Homo sapiens: one gene and its partner. The protein of the gene in region 2 purifies or fractionates together with the protein of the main gene of each other region. This does not show direct contact. Each region holds a gene or a part of one and is shown on either strand. Other genes may lie near its edges.

Evidence for each region. Proteins that work in one complex are often made in the same cells at the same time.
Region 1: the proteins of PWP2 (region 2) and UNC45B purify together in Homo sapiens (affinity purification with mass spectrometry; one large-scale study listed by BioGRID and IntAct). This does not show direct contact.

What each region holds. Positions count from the first base shown.
Region 1 is NC_000017.11:35,164,817-35,168,316, reverse strand, and holds part of UNC45B (protein unc-45 homolog B), read right to left. Parts: intron 257-3,500; coding exon 1-256. UniProt on the Homo sapiens protein: Acts as a co-chaperone for HSP90 and is required for proper folding of the myosin motor domain. Plays a role in sarcomere formation during muscle cell development. Is necessary for normal early lens development.
Region 2 is NC_000021.9:44,124,399-44,127,898, reverse strand, and holds part of PWP2 (periodic tryptophan protein 2 homolog), read right to left. Parts: intron 3,320-3,500; coding exon 3,172-3,319; intron 1,889-3,171; coding exon 1,780-1,888; intron 1,000-1,779; coding exon 934-999; intron 1-933. UniProt on the Homo sapiens protein: Part of the small subunit (SSU) processome, first precursor of the small eukaryotic ribosomal subunit.

The DNA.
Region 1 (3,500 bases), on a different chromosome or scaffold from region 2:
GATCTGTTTGAGCAGTGACACTCCATTGGTGATGATGAAGGTGGCGCGGCTGAGCTTCGTGGAGGCATGGATGAGGGCCTCCACGGCCACCAGCTGGTCCGTCTCGCGCTCTGAGCCACATAGTGCCACCATCATCTCCATCACACCTTTCAGTCCCAGCAGCTGGTTGCCCAGGTCAAAGGGGCCCTGCAGGATCCCTGACACTGTCTGGATGGCATTCAAGTTCTTGTCCATGTCCTGGGGGTCAAACTTGCCCCTAAAACAAAGGACAAGGGTGGTCAAGAGAACTGGTCCAAGAGAGTGGAAAGAGTGTGAGATTTGGAGGCAGTAGGATTTGGATTTGCATCCTGGCTCCACCACTCATGTGCTGTGTGATATTGGGCAATTCAGCGAACCTCTCTGAGCCTCAGCTCCTGTAAACTGAGGATAGTACTACTAGTTCTCAGAGTTGTGGTGAGGATAAATGACATAACAGCTGTGTCACAGAGTGTGCCTCTGGGAAATACACTCTGACTCAGGGATTGACATGCAGGAAGTTTATTAGAGAGAGCTCTTGGGAAGAGAAGGAAGCAGGACTGGGGCAGAGGGAGGCATTTTGCAGCTATCACAAAGCCTCAGCCTCCAAGAAGTTCTGGAGCTGGAAGACCCTTCACAGTTGTTCCAAGTTAGAGTGAGTCTTTTTCTTTCTTTTTTTTTTTTTTGAGACTGAGTCTTGCTCTGTTGCTGGAGTGCACTGGTGCCATCATAGCTCACTGTGACCTCAAACCCCTAAGCTCAAGCAATCCTCCCACCTCAGCCTCCTGAGCAGTTGAGACTACAGGTGCACACAATCATGCTCAGACAATTGTTTAAATTTTTTTGTAGAGATGGGATCTTGCTATGTTGCCCAAGCTGATCTCAAACTCCTGGCCTCAGATGATCTTTCCACCTGGCCTCCCAAAGCACTGGTATTATAGGTCTGAGTCACCTCAACTAGCCTGGTGTGAGTGTTTGCATACTGGCTTCCCTGGGAAGGGTGAAACAGCTCTCCCCAGGTGAGACAAGTCCCAAAGAGAGATAACAGCTGAGAGCTGTCAGCTGACAGCCTTTCCAGCAGCTGCTGTGTCTGGGAGGACAGTACAGCATTGACAACAACACAAAAAGGCCTAGCGTGATGCCCGGCACACTGTGTCTCTCTGTGACATGGCCTGGGCCAGTCACTCCCCTCTGGTGATCTGGTCTTAGTCCCTTCCCCTGTTGGTGAGCATGTGGGCTAGATATCCAGGAACGTTCTGCCTTGCTTTCAGAATCTATTATCATCTACTCTAGGGGAGAATCTCTGCGTGGGAATGTCAGAGGTGACATGCCTTCTGATGCTTCTCATCTGCCCAGGTTGGTGCATTGTGGGAAACAGGGCAGATGTGCACAGTGGAAATGCAGCTGTGTATAAATGCAAGAAGGCAGCGTGGACTGGTCAGGAGAACTCCACACCAAGAGTCCAAGACCTGGGCTCTGGTCCCATGTCTGCCTCTGATTGCTGGAGGATCTCAGGCAAGTTCCCCTGGGGAAGAGGACTCAGCTTTGGAAGCTCTGACAGCCCCTCCAGCTTGAGCATCCCATGTCCTGTGCCTCATCTCTCCACTCAGTGCCCAGGGAACCAGCATCCTTCGTAATTAGTTGCGGTCTGACCTTTGAGCTGGCACTGGGTCCCCACACAGCCCCCGCCCCTGATGAAGCGGGATGTATTCCACTCTTGCTAGGGGCAGGCTGGGGCACCATTTGATGAAGGCAGTGACCCCTCCTCTCAGCATTCCACAGGCTGACAGGAGGGAGCCTCAATCAACAAGCCCAAACAAGAACTAGCTGGATGACAGGTAATGGGAGTCAGTTGGGGACCTCATGAGGGACTCAAGAAGTCAGCAGGAAAAGTTGAAACTGAGGTAGAGAAAGACAGAAGCCTTGAAAAGACCTAAGTGAACCAAAGTCAGGGTGAGCAGAAGCCGTGGGGTAGAGAAGGAGTTGGCAAATCCAGGGAGTTGAGAATAGCTTTCACATTATTTTATTTTATTTGAGACGGGGTCTCACGCTCTTGCCCAGGCTGGAGTGCAGTAGTGCATTCAAGGCTCATTGCAGCCTTGACCTCCTGGGCTCAAGTGATCCTCCTACCTCAGCTTCCCAAGTAGCTGAGACTACAGGGGTGTGCCACCACACTTGACTCATTTTTAATTTTTTTTTTTTTTTTTTTTTTTTTAGAGATGAGGGTCTCTCTACATTGCCTGGGTTGGTCTCAAACTCCTGGTCTCAGGCAATTCTCCCACATCGGCCTCCCAAAATGCTAGGATTACAGGCATGAGCCACCACACCTGGCCAGCAGCTTTTTGCCTTTCTTTTTTCTTTTTGAGATGGAGACTTGCTCTGTCACCCAGGCTGGAGTGCAGTGGTGCGATCTTGGCTCACTACAACCTCTACCTCCTGGGTTCAAGCGATTCTTCTGCCTCAGCCTCCCTAGTAGCTGAGATTACAGGCATGTGCCACCATACTCGGCTAATTTTTGGTATTTTTAGTAGAGATGGGGTTTCACCATGTTGGTCAGGCTGGTCTTGAACTCCTGACCTCAGGTGATCCGCGCTCCTCGGCATCCCAAAGTGCTGGGATTACAGGCGTGAGCCACTGTGCCCAGCCAGCTTTTTGCATTTTAAAGGATTTTTAAAAATATGTTGACAGAGACTTATCTGTCCCACAAATACTAAAATATTTACTCTCTGGCCCTTCATAGAAAAAGTTTGTTGACCCCTGGAATATAGAAAGGAAAAGCAGAGTAAAGGCAACGTCTTCACCCACCTAAGACTCACCTGGAGTGCTTTTAAGCATGCAGCTTCCTGAGCCACACCCCAAACTACCGAGTCAAGAGGGGATGTCTCAGAAATCTGAATAATTTACAAGTCTGGGAATCACTGCAATAAAGAATTAAAAGGTCATGCACTGGAGTCACACTGATGCTGGAGCACCAGTGAGGAGACTCAGGAACTGCAGCTGCTGAGGGTCCTAACCCCTGTCTAGCTCTGCAAAGCCACATGAGTCTTAGTCTTGAAAGAACCGGGCCTCCCTCCTTGACAAGCTGACATGTGTTCCTTTCAACCACAGAAGCCAGTGGTAGGTATAAAATATGTCCATGGCTGGGCAAGGTAGTTGATGCCTGTAATCCCGGCACTTTGGGAGGCAGAGGCAGGAAGATTGCTTGAGCTTGGGAGTTCAATACCAGCCTGGGAAACATAGCAAAACAAAAAATACAAAAATTAGCCAGGCGTGGTAGTGCACACTTATAGTCTCAGCTACTTGGGAGGCTGAGGCAGAGGCAGGAGGATCGCTTGAGCCCAGCAGGCTGAGGCTGCAGTGAGTCATGATCATGCCACTGCACTCCAGCCCGGGTGACAGAAAAAAAAAAAAATTAGCCCAGCATGGTGGCAAGTGCCTGTAGTCCCAGCTACCCTGGGAGGCTGAGGTAGGAGGATTACATGAGC
Region 2 (3,500 bases):
AAGCTCATTCCTCCCAACATTTTTTTTCTTTTTTTTTTTTTTTAAAGAAACAGTATTAAGTACATTCCCCTGGGACAAAGTGCAAAAATCAGGAGGAACCGGGACGTCTGCCTCTAGCCCCCACCCCACTACTCCCCTGGGAAGGAATGAATGGATCATCCCAGAAGTTACTCTCCCAGGGATGCACATATAAGCAAATATGTACACGCATGCGTCCTCCTCTCTTGACGCCGGGAGCCAGCCAAGTCTTCTGTCTAGCTCAGGCGTCTTCAGCTCCGCAGGCCCTGTGGTCTCTGCTGCACCTACTCAGTGCTGCACGGATCACTAGAGACAGCCAGAAGGATCCGCCAACAAAAAAACGCCCAGTAAAATGTCCCAGTAAAACATCAGTGACCAAAGCAGGTGGCCAGCCAGATTTGGCCCTTGGGCCCGAGGGCACAGACCCCTGGCTCACATGGGCCTCTCTGCCCCTGGCTCTGACACTCAGTCTAGGCTGGAGCACGCTTGCCAATAGCCCTGCTCCTGGCTCCTCTGTGTGGGGACCATGTGCACCGCCAGGCTCCACAGGCCTGTGGCACAGACCCTCCTCCCCACTGCGAGAGGATGGGGGCAGTGCGCAGGAGACGGGCTCTCCGTGATGGCAGAGCCGCCCCCAGGCAGCACGTCCAGGGCACTCGGGGAGCTGCTAGAGCAAGGGCATACCAGGCCTGCCATGTTTCAAAGCTCAGTGCATCTGAGGTTGGCACCGTGACAGCCATCCATCCTCAGGGACAACAGCCATCTTGTGGCCTGCAGGGTTTGCAGGGCCATGTTCTTACCCAGGGGCACAGGGCACAGCCCAGAGCCTGCAGACAGCTCCATGGTGGCCAGCCTTGCTATGGCACAGATGCCCCAGTGCCCACCGGCACCAAAAGCCCATGGCTCAGTGCTCACCAGTGGGAGAGAAGCGGAGTGAGGTCACCCTGATCTCAGGTTTGAAGTGCCGAGAACTCATGTCACCTGGGGAAAAAAGAACCGTTAATGATCACTGGACAGCATATCCAGGCTGCTCTCCCCACGAAGCAAGTCATCCTGCGGTCTCCCGGCTGGCTGGGGGGTGCTGTGGGAGCCCCATCAAGAGCAGCAGCCTCTACTCATTGGGTCCTGCACAAAGCGGAGGCAGAAGCAGCCCTTCCCTCGCTGCAGCTGCGGCAGGTGGGCCCGTGCTGGGGCCGCGGAGGCTGTTCCGGGTGAGCTGCCAAACAGATGGCCCAGCCCATGGGGCAGATGCTCAAAAAAGCCAGCCCGGCCAGCAGACTGTGTGTCCAACCCAGAAAAGGGCCCCAGCCCAGCCCAGGAGTGGGTCTGCTGTGCTCAACACGGTACCCTGGGCCTGCATATGGAAGCACTCAGGGTTTCTGGCTGGCGAGTGTCCCATCAGGATGGTCTACCTGGGACCCAGATCTTCTAGAGCACCTGGCTCTCTGTGCGGCGCACATGGCCTCACGCCAGAATGCTCCGTGTGCTGTGCAGCAGACGGGGCACCCAGTCCCAAGAGCAAATGGACGGGTCCCGCCAGGGCAGGGAGGCCACGTGTAGCAACACATGGGCAGCTTCTCCTGCCCAGGGGCTGACGGCACCAGCACCAACCCACTGGGCCTTTGACACCCCCAGTGTCCAGCAAATGTCACCATGTAGTAACTGTTATTTCCACACACTGCAGCCCCAACCAGGGGCATGAATGCGTGGTCACCCAGGACCGGTGAGTGGTGGGCAGATGCGGGAGGAACCTCTGCTCACCTTTCCTGACGCCTGGCAGTGGTATCGCGACTCCATCCTCCTGCCCAGCATCCTGATCAATTAGTGCCAGGTTGCCAAACTCTGTCATTTTTCTTCGGTTCAAAAATTCCTAGAACAGCAAAAGCAGTGGACGCCTTGCTTCTGATGGCCTGGCCGCCTGGCCCTCGTCTCCTACCCTTGCTCTTTGACCCCAACACCAGACAAGCCTCAGCCCTGTCTAGAACAAGGACGGGGAGAGAGCCCTGCAGTGCCCCAGGGACTCTTCCTGCAGAGCTAGCTGCAGACAGGGTGGGTGTGGAAGCTGTGGAGCAGGGCAGGTGCGGAGGCTGCGGAGGGGGATGGACTGAGGTCTACATGCTGGCATTGCTGCCACCATCACAAAGGCTGGGGCTCACAGCGAGGATGGCCGTCTACTCCCTTGTGAAAATGCCAAGGACACTTTCCCCCAGAAACATTTAGGGGACAGTGGGCTTCTGCCCCGATGGGGCGTGGACAGGTGAACCCAGCAGCCACACCCCTGCTTAGAGGCTACCAGGGCTTCCTCACTCTCATTCTGAGGTCCTGCAGGAGCCAGCATGTGAGTGGGACCTGAGCCGAGGGCTGTGCTGAGGGGGAAGGGCAGGCACCAGTGGGGACAGTGAAGGCAGAGCCTTGTACACAGGACCCCGGGCAGGAAGCCATCGGGCAGGGCCTACCAGCACCCTCTTCGTTCACTCCTTCCCTGACAGATGTCCGTGTCTCCTGAGCCAGCGTGTGCTGGGCACTGCCCCTCACAGCTCCAGCCTCCTAGCAACCAGCCTCGGCAGGGTCATCCACAGCAGTGGTTCCCAACCCCTGGTACTGGCCCATGGTCTGTTAGGAAACAGGCTGCACGGCAGGAGGTGAGTGGTGGGCAGGTGAATGAGTGAAGCTTCATCTGAATTTACAGCCGCTCCCCATTGCTCGCATCACCACCTGAGCTCCGCCTCCTGACAGATCAGTGGCAGCATTAGATTCTCACAGGAGTGCGAACCCTATTGTGAACGACACGTGAGGGATCTAGGTTGCACCCTCCTTCTGAGAATCTAATGCCTGGTGATCTTGATCTGAGGTGAAACAGTTTCATCCCAAAATCAATCCCCCCAACCCTGTCTGTGGAAAAATTGCCTTCCACGAAACCGGTCCCAAATGCCAAAAGGGTTGGGGACCGTGGCTCCACACACAGCTGAGGCAGGTGCTGGCTTCACGGCCGGACTCTGCTGGGGCAGGTGAGGGGCCCGTGCACTTAGATACAGGACAAGCACCACAACTGTGCCCAAGGCCCCATGGAGCCAGGAGTGCAGAACGCAGGAGCCCGACGCATTCCACCTGCATTGGAAGCAACATCCATCCGGCCCCGCGCTGGCGGCTCACCTCCATGGCGTCCAAAGACAGGTTGCAAGAGATCTCGAACCTCTTCATGAGAATCTGCTCACGGACGTGGTAGATGCACACGAACTTGGACATGCCTCCCGCCAGGATGCTGTGGCCGTCTGCAGAGTAGCACAGGGCGGTGAAGGCCCTGGGTGGAGAGGAGACATGGACTTACGGTGGCCACCACGGAAACCTCAGCGTATGGCTCCTAAAAACCAACTTTAGGCCTGCATGGTGGCTCCCGCCTGTTATCTCAGCACTTTGGGAGGCTGAGTTGGGAAGATTGCTTGAGTCCAGGAGTTCAAGACAAGCTTGGACAATATACCAAG